2 separate regions of the Homo sapiens genome follow, and region 2 is reported to be linked to region 1. The links are microRNA targets in miRTarBase. Many come from high-throughput screens and were not tested one by one. Region 1 holds a microRNA gene; the other region holds the end of a gene's coding sequence.

Region 1 (4,152 bases):
GTGGCTCATGCCTGTAATCCCAGCACTTTGGGAGGCAGAGGCCGGTGGCTAACTTGAGGTCAGGGGTTTGAGACCAGCCTGGCAAACATGGTGAAATCCCATCTCTACTAAAAAAAAAACAAAAAACAAAAAACAAAAAGTAGCCAGGTGTGGTGGTGGGCTCCCGTAATTCTAGCTACTCAGGAGGCTGAGGTAGAAGAATTGCTTGAATCCGGGAGGCAGAGGTTGCACTGAGCAGAGATCACGCCTCGGCCCTCCAGCCTGGGTAACAGTGAGACTCCATCTCAAAAACATAAATAAATGAATTTTAAAAAATGAAAATATTATCCAGGTGTGGTGATGGGCACCTGTAATCTCACCTACTTGGGAAGCTGAGGCAGGAGACTCGCTTGAACCTGGGAGGTGGAGGTTGCAGTGAGCCGAGATCACACCACTGCACTTCAGCCTGGGTGATAGAGAGACTCTGTCCGCTAAAAAAACCATTTGAATCCAAAAGACCTAGGTTGGATGTGCCACCGCACTCCAGCCTGGGCAACAGAGATCCTGTCTTAGAATAAAAAAGCAAAACCAAAACAGAACCCCGCCATCGTCCAAGCCTCATGATAAGCATGCTCTACAAATGTATTACCGAGATAAGCATCAACTTCAACGCTGCTTTTCTCAAACCGTAACACTCCAAAGGGAAGCGCCTTCTTTTCCTTTGGACAAGAGAAAGTGCTTCCCTTTGTAGGGTCACAGCATGAGATCTTCTTGCTCCAGAACTCTGGGTTTTTTGTTGGAATTTTCCTTGCCCAGGTTAAAATGGACACAAAAATGAGGATGCATTTATTGGCCCTGTTTGCATGTTTTCTGGAATCCAGAACATAAACCCCTAAAATGACCATCTCCAGTTCCTTGCTACAAAGAATAAGCAGGTTAGCCTTATCCCTAATCCCAGCACTTTGGGAGGCCGAGGTGGGCGGATCACCTTAGTTCAGGAGTTCAAGGCCAGCCTGCCCAATATGGTGAAACCCTGTCTCTACTAAACGTACAAAAAAATTAGCTGGGGTGGTGGTGTGTGCCTGAAAATCCCAGTTACCCGGGAGTTGGGGAAGGAGAATCACTGGAACCCGGGAGACAGAGGCTACAGTAAGCCGAGATTGCGCCACTGTACTGCAGCCTGGGCGACAGAGCAAGACTGTTTCAAAAAAAATAAATAAATAAAAATAAAAAAAATTTAGTGTCAGGGACAAGGAGATTCAACTAAAAAGATACAAATAAATAGAAAAAATAAGAACATTGTATTAATATTGACATCCATTGGGATTACAGAATAGACTGGATAGATGTGGAGGCCTATATTTTTTGTTTTGTTTTGTTTTGAGATGGAGCCTCGCTCTGTCGCCCAGGCTGGAGTGCACCTGCGCGATCTTGGCTCACTGCAACCTCCGCCTCCTGGGTTGAAGAGATTCTGCTGCCTCAGCCTCCTGAGTAGCTGGGATTACAAGCACGCACCACCACGCCCACTTAATCTTTGTATTTTTAGTAGAGACGGGGTTTCACCATATTGGTCAGGCTGGTCTCGAACTCCTGACCTCCTGATCCGCCTGCTTCAGTCTCCCAAAGTGCTTGGATTACACACCTGGCCCTTACTCTCCTAATGAAGGAAACATGGTTTGGATTGATTAAACTAAACTGATGAAAGGCCTGTATTTGAAGTGACCAACCCAAATGGAGCCTCAGGAACCAGATGGCATGTAATCTGCGTTTTTAAAGAGATGGGATCTTGCTATGTGGCCCAGGCCGGAGTGCAGTGGCTATTCAAAGGTGTGATCAGTGCATGGTATAGCCTTAAAATCAAAGGACCCTCCCACCCTAGCCTTTGCAGTAACTGGGACCCTGTGTGTCCCAGGATGCCTGGCCGTGTCACCTATCTTTGAAATGGGACAAGGTGGCTCACACATTTAGGATCACTTAAGCTCAGCTGAGACCATCCCAGGCAAAAGAGACCCCATCTCTACCAAAAATTAAAACCTGAGCCCAACTACTTGCGAGGCTGACAAGAAGACCACTTGAGGCTGGACGTGGTGGCTCACGCCTGTAATCCCAGCACTTTGGGAGGCCAGGGAGGTGGATCACTTAAGGTCAGGAGTCGAGACCAGCCTGGCCAACATGGCGAAACCCTTTCTTGTCTAAAAATACAAAAATTGGCAGGGTGTGTTGGTGGGTGCTTGTAATACCAGCTATTTGCGAGGCTAAGGTGAAAGAATCACTGGAACTCCACGGTGAGTGGAGATCCTGCCACTGCACTCCAGCCTGGGCGACAGAGGTGGGAGTTACAGTGAGTGGAGATCCTGCCACTGCATTCCAGCCTGGGCGACAGAGCCAGTCTCCATCTCAAAATAAAATAAAATAAATAAAATAAAACAAAATAAAATAACAGGCTGGGCACGGAGGCTCACACCTGTAATCCCAGCACTTTGGGAGGCCGAGGCGGGTGGATCATGAGGTCAGGAGTTTGAGACCATCCTGGCCAACGTGGTGAAACCCGGTCTCTACTAAAAATACAAAAATTAGCTCGGCATGGCGGTGCGTGCCTGTAATCCCAGCTACTCAGGAGGCTGAGGCAGGAGAATCGCTTGAACCACGGAGTCGGAGGTTGCAGTGAGCTGAGATTCCGCCACTGGACTCCAACCTGGTGACAGAGCGAGACTCCGTCTCACACACACACAAAAATAAGAATTAATAATAATAATAGAGCAAGACATGACCCCAAGAGATCTAGTTTGGAGTGCAACCCCTCCCTCTCCAGCCTGGGCAACAGAGACTGGTCTTGGAAAAAAATAAAACCAAAACAGAACCCTGCCGTCATCCAAGCCTGATAAGCATGCTCTGCGAATGTATTACCAAGATCAGCATCAACTTCAACGTTGCTTTTCTCAAACCGTAACACTCTAAAGAGAAGCGCTTTGTTTTCTTTCAGACAACAGAAAGTGCTTCCCTCCAGAGAGTCACAGCATGAGATCTTCTCGCTCCAGCCATCTGGGATTTTTGTTGAAATTTTCCTTGACCAGGTTAAGATGGACACAAATATAAAGATGCATTTATTCGCTGTTTGACCGTTTTCTGGAATCCAGAACATAAACCTCTAAAAGGACAATCTCCAGGCTCAGCAGATTAGCCTTGTTCATCAAGGGGAATCCTCCTAAGTTTTGTCTCCAAGGAGAAAAAGCAATGCCCACTACACATACCTTACCTTTAACCAAGAGAATTGAGGTGGATTTCTAGAGAACAGCAATGGATTGAGTCACATGGTCACTTGAGTTCCAGCACAGGGACACACAGTCATGATGGGAGCATCCAAAATGGAATCTAAATTTGCCAGGCGTGGTGGTGCCCACCTGTAATCCCAGCTACTCAGGAGGCTGAGGCAGGAGAATTGCTTGAACCCGGGAGGCGGAGGTTGCAGTGAGACGAGATCGTGCCAATGCACTCCAGCCTGGGTGACAGGAAAGAAAAAAAGAATATGCATTGTCTTACACACAAACATTCTCCAGGATAGAGCACTGCCTAGGCCGTAAAAGCTCCTCAATAACATTTGTACAGAAGTACGGGTGGAGTGCAGTGGCTTACACCTCTAATCCCAGCACTTTAGGAGTCGAAGGCGGGAAAATTACATGAGCTCGAGTTCAAAACTAGCCTGCCCAACATAGTAAAACCTCATCTGTAAAAATACAAAAGATAGCCAGGTGTAGTGGTTCATGCCTGTAGACACTAATTCAGGAGGCTGAGGTGGGAGGTAGAGGCTGCAGTGAGTTGAGGTCACAACACTGCACTCCAGCCTGGGCAATAGAGCCAGATGGTGTCTCAAAAAAAATTAAAAAAAAAAAAAATACACAAACAAAAACAACCCCAAAGTGATATAAGAGTATTCTCTGTGTGCAGAAGACTATTTTGTGTGAATATAATTATACATAGAAGATTATATGATAACATGTATATATTTTGGAGACCCTGTCTCAAAAAAACAAAGTTCCATGTACTATATGCTCACATAAAGAATAATTCCTACATACTAGTGCTTGGGCAGCAAGAACGAAACTCCATCTCAAAAAAAAAAAAAAGAAAAAATCAAAACAAAAACAGAAGCCCACCATCATCCATCTCTGATGA
Region 2 (4,000 bases), not on the chromosome of region 1:
CCCAAGAAAAGGATGCTTTGTGTCTTCTGTCCCTTGCATGCCAGACCCGCCCTCTAGGAACACAAAGCAACAGTCTCAGGAAGACCCAGGATGTTGGGAACAGCATTCCTCTTGCTGGGGTCTGCTACAGCTGGTGTGAGCACGAGACCCTGACCTTAGAACATCCACCCCATTCCCAACTCCCCTGACAAAAGCTGGGTGGCCGTACTACGTATGTGGGACAGATGGCACCAGAGCAGCTCTGTGAATAAAACTTTTAATAATGTACAGCAGAAATTGGACAGGCTCATTCTTATATTAAAACAAAAGATTTCCTATATTACAATTTATTTACATTTGCATACTGAAGAGGTAAAGTGTCTAAGTGGCTATTTTACAGTCCTTTCTAATAAAATGTACAAAAACAAACAGAAGTACCGAGAATGCCGTTCGGGGGCCTTTATGGCGACGTAAGAACGGGCTTGGACTTGGTCTGTGAATCCAGAATCCAGAGGTGCAGGTAGCACTATGGATCAGGGTTAGCCTCGGGGGGCCAAAAACACGGCTTCAGTTTCTCCCCAACTCTCACTTAGTGTTAAGAGTGGCAGAGGTGGGTGTGGGAGCTTCCCAAAGACCTGCTCCATCTTCCCCAGAGGTGGAAGAGTTGGACTGTGTGTGGGGTAAGGGCAGAAGGGCCAACTGGGGAGTGGGCTAGTGGCTTGGGAGTGGACGTGTGTTGGCAGATCCCAGAGGCTACTTGTGACTCTGGGAAGAGGAGTCTAAGTTCCATCATTACCTATAAACCGCCAAGGTTCTGCTGCAGGGCGGATAGGTGGGAGGTCAGCAGGGGTAAAGACGGTCCCCCCAATGACACAATGGTATTTAAACGAAATTAGTGGCCAGTAAATTGGCCCAAAGGTTAGGGGAAGATCTCCTTTAATGCAAGGAAAGAAGCAATAATCAGTCAAATAAATAGAAGGGCCAGGAGCACTGGGGAGCCTGAGGGCAGGGACAGGGCTCTCCCTCCTCCACAAGCTTTGGCAGAGAACTGCTGGGTTGGAGGCAGAGATGCTCTAAGGCTACATACACAATACACCTCCCCTGGGGACAGGAAGGGGGCTCAGAATGAATGCAGTGATTTGAGGTCTCACCTGGGGTTCTAAACCCCAGGTCTCATCACCCGCCCCTGGTCTCTTTGTGGAGGGGGTTGTGGGGGTTCCTCTTTCTTCAGTGATCTTATATAAGAACAATAATTCTAGGCTCAAAAGGGTCGTAGAACCAATTATGAAACCTTCTGGTCTCAAAACAGGCATCTACTTACTTGAATCAGCTCTTTTTACAGTGCTCCAGGAGTAGGACCCAAGCATGTCTTGTCCACAGATGTATTCCCAGCACCTGGCACCCAGCAGGCACTTCACCCACATTTGTTGAATAAATGCCTGGAGAGGGTACAACCAGCTGGACAGTGCAAGAAAGGGCCCTAGAGCAAAAACCACTCAAGGAATTGGGGGTGGGGACAAAATACGAGAGAGACTGAGCCTCAGGGCAAAGAGGAACTCTCACTGCTGAGTGGGAACAGGCTCAGGTGCAAGGACAAACATTTCCAGTGTGATTGAGCTATGTGCGTTCAATTGGATAATTTTTTTTTTTAGGGATTTCTTTAAAAACAAATAGATTGAGAGGTAATCACAGAGATGGTTTTCCTTTTACAAAAACTTAATATTTAACAACATTAAAAAAAGTTAAAATCCAAACCCTCCCAATAAAATTAAAAAAAGAAATCAAACCACTCCAGTTAAAAGTTATGGCTTCAAAGTTATTATATACCTAAGATATGCTGACCAAATCACCACCCACAGCCGTGCTTCTAGGCTTCGTTAAATACTATACTCAGGTTAAATAACATGTTCGGCTCAGGCTGTTCCCTTCAGTAGGGCTCCTGAAGTGGATGCAAACCTCTCACCTTCCCTCCACCCTGATCAGACAGTCCAGTAAAAGAAGACCCATGCAGATGCCTCCCTCCCACCCCAGACTCCCTCCCCACTCCTTGCCCGCCCTTCCCTTCCCCACCCCAAACCCACCACCACCAAAAATATACACTGCTGTTTCCAGGATCTGGGAGATGAAAGACAGATGTAACATTCCAATCTGAGTCCCGAGATCTGGCTTCACATTCCTCGGCCCTTCCTCGATGCTGCTGAGGATGATGCCCTTGGGCTGGCTCATTTCCCATGGCTGACACTAACACCCAAGACTTCCACCAGGATTCCTTCCCTGCCCATCCCACCCACCACCCTCACATTTTGGCCCAAAAGCCTCTTTTGTCATGGACAACTGGGCCAGCTTTGGTTCCACAGTCTGAGATGGAGGAGGAGAGCTGTGCTGATGCTGGGGTGGGCAGAGTAGCCTGCCAGACACAGAGTACCACTGTGGCATGAGGGGCTCTGGGGGAGGGAGAGACCTCCAGGGAAGGGCACCAGGGAAACTAGATGCTGCTCACTACTGAAAAGAGGCACCAGCAAGCACGGACAGCATGACGACCACACCCCCGACCTGCACATGCACAGAAAGCTCAAGCAGGTAAGTGCGCACCTACAGACACACACACACACTCACACGCACGTGTAAGGGCATGGCACGAACCAGGCACAACGGGGGACGCACCTCGGCACATGCACACACGGCTGGACAGACAAAGCGGCAGATTCCGTCTCCACTGGCAGTCTCCCGGCAGCGTCCATCCCAGGGAGGAGGGGAAAGCGCGGCTCAGAGCTGCCTGTGAGAGGGGCTGCACTTCTGGTTCTTCCGGGCCACCTTGGTGTGCTGTGGGCTGGTCCCCGAAGGAAACCCTCAGGGCAGCTTAGCACTGGCAACACCTCGGTTCCTCCGGCCCCTCCCAAGCGCCCCTGTCATGGCTCCTGGCCACGTGCCAGATGCACCGGGTTTCGCGGGACTTCCCACTACAACCAGTTCGAGGTGTGGCACTGAGTTCTCCACACAATTCGCTCTCAGAGTCTCCATGCCATTAGGAGGTAAATAGAAAAGGTGTCTGTCTCAAACCCAACATGGGAGTGAGCGAGTCTCTCCCGGGCTCTGTCCCTCTTGCGGGCCAGGGCTCCTGGCCACAGAGGGCTGGGCAGAAACGAGAGGTAGGCCTCCATCGTACGCTCAACGCGGCAGCTGTGCGTAGTTCTCGCTGCCAGGAGCTCCGTGTGGAGAGAGGGAGCAGTTAGATCTTCACGTCTTCCTGCACGCTGAGCTGGGAGAGGGTCTTCTTGATGCGCAGGGCCGTCAGGCGGGCTGCGCCGTTGGCATACCAACACTCTCGCATCATCTTCCCCATCACCCGCAGTGCCTGTGCAGAGACCCAGGAGCCATCAGCTCGGTCATGCCCTGGAGAAGCCTTTCTGGTCCCTAGGCTCTCACTCATTTCCCTGCCACCTCCCGCTCAGTGCAGTCTGGCAGATCCACATCCACCCGGCGGCCGACCTTAGGGAAATGCTCTGCAAGGCTCCCTTTGTTCCCTGGCTCTTCCTTTTTTTTTTTTTTTTTTTTTTTTTTTTTTTTTTTTTTTAGAAGGAGTCTCACTCTGTCACCCAGGCTGGAGTGCAGTGGCGCAATCTTGGCTCACCGCAACCTCCGCCTCCCGGGTTCAAGTGATTCTCCTGTCTCAGCCTCCCCAGTAGCTGGGACTACAGGCACACACCACTACGCCCAGCTGATTTTTGTATTTTTAGTAGAGATGGGGTTTTACCATATTGGTTGGCCAGGATGGTCTCGCTCTCTCGACCTTGTGATCTGCCCACCTCGGCCTCCCAAAGTGCTGGGATTACAGGCATGAGCCACCGCGCCAGGCGGCTCTTCCTTTTTAAGGGACAGCTTACACAAGTGAAAGGCAAACGCTGCAGCTAACGGCCAGCTCTTTTGGTCTCACCTGCCCTCTGAAGCAAACCCTGCCCTGAGGGTTCCAAGGAGTGCGGTGAGAAGTGCTGCTCTATGATGCAACACGAAAGCATCAGCT

What was found. The annotated mature microRNA hsa-miR-518c-3p reads CAAAGCGCUUCUCUUUAGAGUGU and lies in region 1 at 2,929-2,951, opposite strand. An mRNA with a match to its seed (bases 2 to 7 or 8) in the 3' UTR can be bound and repressed. Matches are read on the target gene's strand: a 7mer-m8 pairs with bases 2 to 8, a 7mer-A1 pairs with bases 2 to 7 and ends in A, and an 8mer does both.
Region 2: the mRNA of ACVR1B is a reported target of hsa-miR-518c-3p. Seed matches in the 3' UTR shown: 7mer-m8 at 2,736-2,742.

What each region holds. Positions count from the first base shown.
Region 1 is chr19:53,707,595-53,711,746 of GRCh38, reverse strand. It overlaps MIR518C (microRNA 518c), which reads right to left and starts at 3,012; the gene lies at 2,912-3,012. It overlaps MIR524 (microRNA 524), which reads right to left and starts at 745; the gene lies at 659-745. LOC107985346 (a long non-coding RNA gene) reads right to left here. Exons shown (of 5, transcript XR_001753998.1): 5 at 3,438-3,478.
Region 2 is chr12:51,993,319-51,997,318 of GRCh38, reverse strand. It overlaps ACVR1B (activin A receptor type 1B), which reads right to left. Exons shown (of 9, transcript NM_004302.5): 9 at 241-3,334. The coding sequence ends at 3,209. Among named protein-coding and RNA genes, the nearest start is that of TAMALIN, 12 kb to the left of the region's middle.